Regions from separate parts of the Homo sapiens genome. Here region 2 is reported to be linked to region 1. Evidence: microRNA targets listed by miRTarBase, many of them from high-throughput screens and not tested one by one. Region 1 holds a microRNA gene; the other region holds the end of a gene's coding sequence.

Region 1 (4,000 bases):
GTTCTTAGGACAGAATTATCTCCATTGTTTTGCTTGTATCTGGGTTCCCAGCTTGTTTCTGTTCTGGTGCTTAGTCATTACGTTGTTAACTCTCTGATTTTGGTTTTGGAAGATGTTTTTATTTATTTATTTTTTTATTGGGAGAATTTATTTGAATTACCTACCATTACTTGAAACAAAGCAGTTGTTAGGGAATTTCTTAGCAGGGTTGAGTAGATTGTCTTAGGTTATACAGGACAATTATTTACAGAAAAGCAAGCTGAGACATGGATGTAATAAATAGCCGTTAGAATCTATGTTTCCCTGATTTTTGGCCCATGACACTATCGTATTACTATTTGTAGTGGAAAGAGATTACATATTCTAGTTAACTGGTTTATGGTTTAGATGTCCCTCTGAAAGGCAAGATTGTCTCCAACACATAATGAATTATTCTATTAATATCCAAAATAAATATTCTACTAAATGTCCTGTATAAAATAAGAGAATCAGATTTCTGGTTCAAGATAATAAGGACCAAGCACAATTATTTCATGCTTTTTTTTCTCTTTAAAATCTATTGAAATGGCCAAGATGAACAAGGAGATGTGACCTTAGGAGAAAAAAAACATAGGATATTTAAACTGCATGTTTAAAACATGATGAGGCTGATACAAAAAGGGAACAAAGAATAAAATACAATTCTTAGAGATATGTTTGCCAAATCAAATTTAATGGAAAATTCCATATAACCAAATGAACACAGCCAGAGACCAAAGTGATGATCTCTAGGATAAATTAAAAGTCCCCTAGAATCTAGATCAAAAAGAAATGTATACAAAAGAAGTGAAAAGTTAAAAAGTCATGGCAGATAGGACTAGACGTTCCAGAAGGCCAAATAGTGGTGATAGTTATAAAATATAATTTTATAATGTTTCCCTGAACTTGATAAAAACCCGGATAATAAGACCAAAATTGCTTACCAAGAAGAAATAAATTAAAAAGTTACATTCTGGTGGTAGTTTTAAATATTAGATGTATTTGTTTTGAATAAATAATAAATTCACATGTAATGTTATACAACCTATCTTTACCTGGTTTTTGGTTTCAGGGTAATGCTGGCTACGTATGTTCAATTTTTGGAATAGTTTGTATGAAATTGCATTATTTCTTCCTTTAATATTTGATAAAATTCACCAGTGAAGCCATCCAGGACAGGACTTTTCTTTATGGGAATTTGTTTTAAAGCAATTTCAATTACTTTAATAAATATAGGGCTATTCAGGTTATCACTTTCTTCTTCAGCAAACTTGGTCATATGGGTCTTTCAAGGAATATATTTGTTTTATTTCAATTATCACATTTAAAAGCATTAAGTTGTTCATAACATTCTTATTATTTTAATATCTGTAGAATCTATAGTAATGCCACCTCTCTAATTCCTGATATCAAGAATTTGTATGTTTTCTCTTTTTCTTAATCATTCTGGTTAGAAGTATATCAATTGTGTTGATCCTCTCTTAGTTTTATTGATTTTCCCTATTGTTTCTCTGGTTTTTATTTCATTGATTTCCATTTTGAACTTTATTTCACCAGCTTACTTTGAGTTTTATTTGTTCTTTTTCTAGTTTCTTATGGTGGCAGCTTGAGGTCATTAATTTGAGACCTTTCTATTATTCTCATAAAGACAGTTAGCACTGTAAATTTCCCCTTAAGTACTGCTTCAGCAGCATCCCACAAATTCTGATATGTTGTATTTTCCTTTTAAAAGTTTTTTCTAATTTACCCTTTTGTTTCTTCTGTGATCTATGGCTTTATTAGGTTGGTACAAAAGCAATCGCGGTTTTTGCTATTACTTTTAAAGGCAAAAACTGAGACTACTTTTGCACCAACCTGATAGAAGAATGTTATTTTGTTCCCAAAAGCTTGACAATTTTCCATGATATATTATTGACTTCTAATTTACCTCCATTGTGGTCAAGAACATTCCTGATAGGACTTGAATTCTTTCATCATGGTAAAAGTATTCCATGTGCAGTTTAATGTGTATTCTACTTTTGTTGGGTGGAGTGATCCATAAATATGAATCATGGTACAGATGAGGCAATCAATGAGTTTATTCTACTTTCTGCCGTTTCTGGAGGAGTCTCTTTTTCTTCTTATTTTTGTTAACTGCATTGTCAGCATAGGTAACATACCTTGTTGTACTAATTCCCATTTTTGTTTTAGTCTTAATGTTTATCAGCAGTCCTGTTGCCATAGTTGCCTCAGTCATTTCTTGGTTGGCTGAAGTCAATCTGGTTGGTAGTCATTTGCTCAAAAATGGTTCATGGGAGCAGTATTCTCCTATAGTTCTTGCATGTGTGTAGCTTTTATAATTTAAGAACAATTTAGATAGATACAAAATAATTGGATCAAACTGCCTTTCCTTGAGGATCTCAGTAGAACTTGTTAACAGGTAGTTCTACCTTCTTCTGGAATTGAATGTACAAAAATAAGAGGCCAGTCCATTTTCTTTTTTCCCCATGATAAGTGACTTAGTCATTTTGCTTGGCCAGCCAAAGTATTATTTCTAGATTTCTGAAATTTTAAGAACTATATTTTATTTATCAGTGTTTATTTTTCAGGATCATATTTTCCTAGTATACTCTGGGCCAATTCAACATATAGGTTTAAGTTTTATTTCAGTACAGTGTTCTTCAGTATATTCAGTATATATTCAGGGTATATATGCTTTCTGTTTGCCATATATATTCAGTGTATATTCAGTATAGTGTTCAGTATAGTAAATATGTCACACAGTGACATATTTAGTTTGTGTTGTATGTTTTTACATTAAAATATGTATCTGTAAGTTTGGTTAGTATGAACAACAAACTAATTGGAATGGTAAAGAAGAAAAGAAAGAATAATGCATAATCTCATCATAATCACTTTCAGTGGAATGTCACATAAAAGCACTTTCAAAAAATGACTTTATAAGATCCAAATTCTTAGTCTTAGAAAAACAAAATGTTCAAGGGCTGAGGAAGGCGAGCGCATGGCGCGGGACTGGCAGGCAGCTCCACCTGCAGCCCTGGTGCGGGATCCACTAGGTGAAGCCAGCTGGGCTCCTGAGTCTGGTGGGGACGTGGAGAGTCTTTATGTCTAGCTCAGGGATTGTAAATACACCAATCAGCACCCTGTGTTTAGCTCAAGGTTTGTGAGTGCACCAATGGACACTCTGTATCTAGGTGCTCTGGTGGGGACGTGGAGAACCTTTATGTCTAGCTCAGGGATTGTAAATACACCAATCAGCACCCTGTGTTTAGCTCAAGGTTTGTGAGTGCACCAATCAACACTCTGTATCTAGCTGCTCTGGTGGGGCCTTGGAGAACCTGTGTGTCGAAACTCTGTATCTAACTAATCTGATGGGGACGTGGAGAACCTTTGTATCTAGCTCAGGGATTGTAAACGCACCAATCAGCGCCCTGACAAAACAGGCCACTCGGCTCTACCAATCAGCAGGACGTGGGTGGGGCCAGATAAGAGAATAAAAGCAGGCTGCCGGAGCCAGCATTGGCAACCCACTCGGGTCCCCTTCCACACTGTGGAAGCTTTGTTCTTTCGCTCTTTGCAATAAATCTTGCTACTGCTCAAAAAAAACAAAAACAAAAAACAAAAAAAAACACAACAAAATGTTGCTTTACTCTACTGCAAATCAGACAGGAGAACCAAAATTTAAGATACTTGAAATGTTATCAAGTGATTTTCTTATCCCTCTCATTGATGTTTAGTCACTATGTATATCTTAGGATATTAAACATGCTAGACATTTTATTGTTTCTTGAACATATCAGGTAAATTCTAGCCTTGAGATCTTTGTGCTTCCCATCTCTCTGTTTAGAACTCTTTTCTCCTAAATATCTGTGTAACTTTGCCTGCTCCTTCAACTGATCAGATAGATATATATAGCATGATTTTCATTCGGCCTTCTTCTCTGTCTCAAATAGTCTAACAATATTTTATTATTTAATATTTT
Region 2 (4,062 bases), not on the chromosome of region 1:
GGTGAAACCCCATCTCTACAAAAATACAAAAATTAGCTGGGAGTGGTAACACACGCCTATAATCCCAGCTACTCCGGAGGCTGAGGCAGGAGAATCTCTTGAATCACGAGGCACAGGTTGCAGTGAGTCAAGATCACACCACTGCACTCCAGCTTGGGCAACAAGAGTGAAACTCAGTCTTGAAGAAAAGAAAAAAAGAGAGAGAGAAAAAAAAAAGGAATCTAATAAATTAATGGGAAATACAAATTGCGGTAAAGCCTTCTTAGCCATTTGTAGATAAAAAGTTCACAGCCTTTTAGTCTCCATGATCACAAAGTAGTGATACACAGCTACTTCATCACTGCCTAATCAGTCCATACTAGTCTATGGTTTGCTTCTGGGTTAGCACACATTTAGTAAAGGGAGACTGCAAACTTCCAAGCTCATATATTTTCTAAGTGTTTCACTGTTTCTCTCTCAACATTGTACCACATATTCCAGCCATCAGCCGTCTCCCACACCCCCGAAAAAAGTTTTAAGCAATTTTCAAAGTGTATACACCATGCACCATGTTAACATCTGATACTAAGGCTAAATTAGTAGCCAGAAGCTATGAGTAACATCCCAGCCACTTGAGTATACAAAATGCTGATGCAATGTCTAGGGTTAGGCAGGATATGGTGGGATGGGAGGAGACAGACAAGGATAGGCTGACTTGAGCAGCTGCTGGTGTGCTGTGAATGGGCCACTGTGGACCATCTGTAATGAAAGAGCTAAACACACATTTATGTGAAGGTCCAGCTGTGGAATTAGTCAGTGCAAAGATGGTAGTTTTAGGCACAAGCTTAAGCAGCTTCCTGAGAAGCTACAGCAGAAGGAAACAACACATGGTAGTAAGAACTGTAAAGTGGGAGACAACCTACAAATATCCACTATGGAAAAGATTCCCAGTTAGACATACCTGAGAGTCTAGACATTCACAAACTGATATGCATCCCTCTCTCTCTCTCTCTCTCTCTCTCTCTCTCTCTCTCTCTCTATATATATATATATATATATTCCTTTACAAAGCATAGTGGACATATGTACAAGCAAAAATAACTCGAAGTTACTTTGGGATCCAAAAACATAAGTCATACAAAGTGACTGTTACATGTAACTGTATACATAATAGGAAAAAAAGCAGGATAATGCTACTACTGAATGTTGGCTGAATCATGGTGAATGTAATATTACCCTTTTTAAGTTATTGATTGATGCAGATGCTGGTGGAGAGGTACTACAGGAATATTTACCTAATGAACCCATACCCAAAGGAACAGGTGAAACTGCTTTCAGTAATATTTTACCTAATGTAACTAATAGAATCTTTCAATATGTAATCAGTTGTTTAAAAACTGACATACATTACATTTTTATATTATGTCTTCAAAATCTAGATGTGTACTTGCATATACATTAGATCTACTCAGAATTCTTTTTTTTGGGCCAGGCATGGTGGCTCACACCTGTAATCCCAGCACTTTGGGAGGCTGAGGTGGGTAGATCATTTGAGGTCAGGAGTTCGAGACCAGCCTGGCCAAGATGGTGAAACCCTATCTCTACTAAAAATACAAAAAAAAAAAAGAAAAAAGAGCCGGGCATCATGGCAGTCGCCTGTAATCCCAGCTACTCAGGAGGCTGAGGCACGAGATTCACTTGAACCCACGAGGTGGAGCTTGCAGCGAGCCGAGATCATGTCACTGCACTCCACCCTGGGTGAGAGAGTGAAACCCTGTCAAAAAAAGATTTTTTTTCTTTGTTGTTCTACTCAGAATTCTTAAGTCAAGGACAGAATGTCCATTTTTAATAAGCTCCCCAAGTTAATTCTTATGATCAAACATGTTTTAAGAATTATTATGCTAATCGGGGCAACCATAAGGAGACCCTGTCTCTACAAAGAAATTAAAAAATTAGCCCGGCATGGTGGCATGTGTCTGGAGTCCCAGCTACTTGGGATGCTTGATCCCAGAAGGTTGAGGCTGCAGTGAGCCATGAACGTGCCACTGCACTCCAGCCTGAGCAACAGAGGGAGACTCTGTCTCTAAAATAAAAAAAGAAATTCAACAAAAATAATTCACAGGGCTAACACATGAATTAATTATTCCTTTACTTATTCCCTTCTAGGACTCAAGTCTTCCCTACTTTGGTGAATGTTTGAAGCCTAGAGAAACATATTCCATCAAGAAAGAATAATAATTAATAGAACATGTTTGTATACTCTATAAATTTTATACAAATTACAACATTTCAGTTACCATCATTATAAATTTGATATACTGTTTAATTTATACCATGTTATCTTTAATGTTTCTATATATTTGGTGTAATCTGTGCCATATTACTCTATAATTAGTATATTAAAATGTAGTAGACTATAGCTCTCTATTATATTAGGAGAATGCTACATGTGTAACCAAAGAGAATCTTAATATGTATAGGAGTATTCATTAGATATGTAGATAATTTTTATATATTAATGATACCTGCAAATTTGTCTAGATAATACAGTAACTGTGACAATAAGTAGTTTTTTTTAAGGGTTTAGAAAGTTAAATAATCAGACAATGCAACAATTTTTCCAGAATGATCTTAGAAAACTCCTTTGAGGTCAGCTAACATGACATCAAAATTCAGTGTGCATAACAGTTTGTTACTGAAATACTTTGTCAGAAAAGGCTTTGCATTAAAAAAAAAATTGACGTATTGATTTCTTTTTACAGACGGGGTATTGCTATATTGCCCAGGCCGGATTTGAACGCCTGGGCTCAAGAGATCCTCATGCCTCAACCTCTGAGTAACTGGGACTACAGAAGCGAACCACTGAACCTGGAAAGCCTTTTTTTTTTTTTTTTTTTTTTTTAAGACTGAGTCTCACTCTGTTGCCCAGGGCAGTGGCACGATCTCAGCTCACTGCAACCTCCGCCTCCTGGGTTCAAGTGATTCTCTTGCCTCAGCCTCTCGAGTAGCTGGGATTACAGATGCCCGCCACCACGCCCGGCTAATTTTTATATTTTTAGTAGAGAAGAGGTTTCACCATGTTGGCCAGGCTAGTCTTGAACTCCTGACCTCAAGTGATCTGCCTGCTTCAGCCTCCCAAAGTGCTAGAACTACAGGTGTGAGCCACTGTGCCAGGCCCTTTTCTGTTTTTTTAGGGCAAGAATGAGACTGTCACTTTACTTGCAATTACAGCTGTATAGCAGAAATTTTTAATGAGGAGGACATTTTTAAAAATAGTATTTACATAGCAATAATCATTAAAAAGTTATCTTAAGTTTCTAGAAACTACAGAATTAAGTAAAACCTGAAGTTCATAAATTTGTGATCCATGCTAAAATTGGGTTATAAAACAAACGATATGCCTCAGGCTCAATAAAAAATACCCCAAACCTCATCATCCGATATAAAACCTGTATTACTGAATGCTACTAAAGACAATAAGGCCGTTTACTTGTTAGTTCTCCCAGTCTGTGCAAGGTAAAGCCTCCTCTTCGTCCTCTGACTCTGGGGATGCTTCTTTAATTCTTCTAAGAGCTTCATGGATGCTCCGTGTTAGAGGGTCTGTATCGGGTAGAAGTGTGAAGGATTCTCTCAAAACATCCTTCTGTACCTTCTTCAATTTTACCCCTTTCCTTATTTGTGCCAAGATATTATTACTATCATCTTCATCAGGAAAAGGAGGCAGAGTTCGCTGTTCAACCTTTTTCAGATGAAAACTACCACGCTTCAAGGAGGCTAGCACCTCATCCATGGGTGAGCTCACTTTGGAAAATGAAACAGAACAGTATTACAGTTAGGACTGCACTTAATTAGAATGAAACTGTATAACCTCTACCGTTCGCAACTGTGAAAGCACAGGACGCTGAAACACCATCTTCAAAATGGATCATGAAATGTGTGCAGAAGGTGATCAGAACACAAGGGATCCTAATTATCCTTCTTTTTAGAAAATCCCAAGACCCAATCCATGGTGGGTACTGTTGGTATTCCTATCATTTCCTACATGAGAGAAGTGACCAGATTGGGAACTGGGAGGTGGTCTTA

What was found. The annotated mature microRNA hsa-miR-548e-3p reads AAAAACUGAGACUACUUUUGCA and lies in region 1 at 1,846-1,867, shown strand. An mRNA with a match to its seed (bases 2 to 7 or 8) in the 3' UTR can be bound and repressed. Matches are read on the target gene's strand: a 7mer-m8 pairs with bases 2 to 8, a 7mer-A1 pairs with bases 2 to 7 and ends in A, and an 8mer does both.
Region 2: miRTarBase lists JMY as a target of hsa-miR-548e-3p. The part of its 3' UTR that is shown has no 7-base or 8-base seed match.

The regions. Positions count from the first base shown.
Region 1 is chr10:110,987,133-110,991,132 of GRCh38, forward strand. MIR548E (microRNA 548e) reads left to right here and starts at 1,794; the gene lies at 1,794-1,881. The region is part of intron 3 of SHOC2 (SHOC2 leucine rich repeat scaffold protein); the gene reads left to right.
Region 2 is chr5:79,315,718-79,319,779 of GRCh38, reverse strand. It overlaps JMY (junction mediating and regulatory protein, p53 cofactor), which reads right to left. Exons shown (of 11, transcript NM_152405.5): 10 at 3,470-3,780. The coding sequence ends at 3,473. It overlaps LOC102724530 (a long non-coding RNA gene), which reads left to right. Exons shown (of 3, transcript XR_001742756.1): 3 at 2,146-2,771. Among named protein-coding and RNA genes, the nearest start is that of JMY, 82 kb to the right of the region's middle.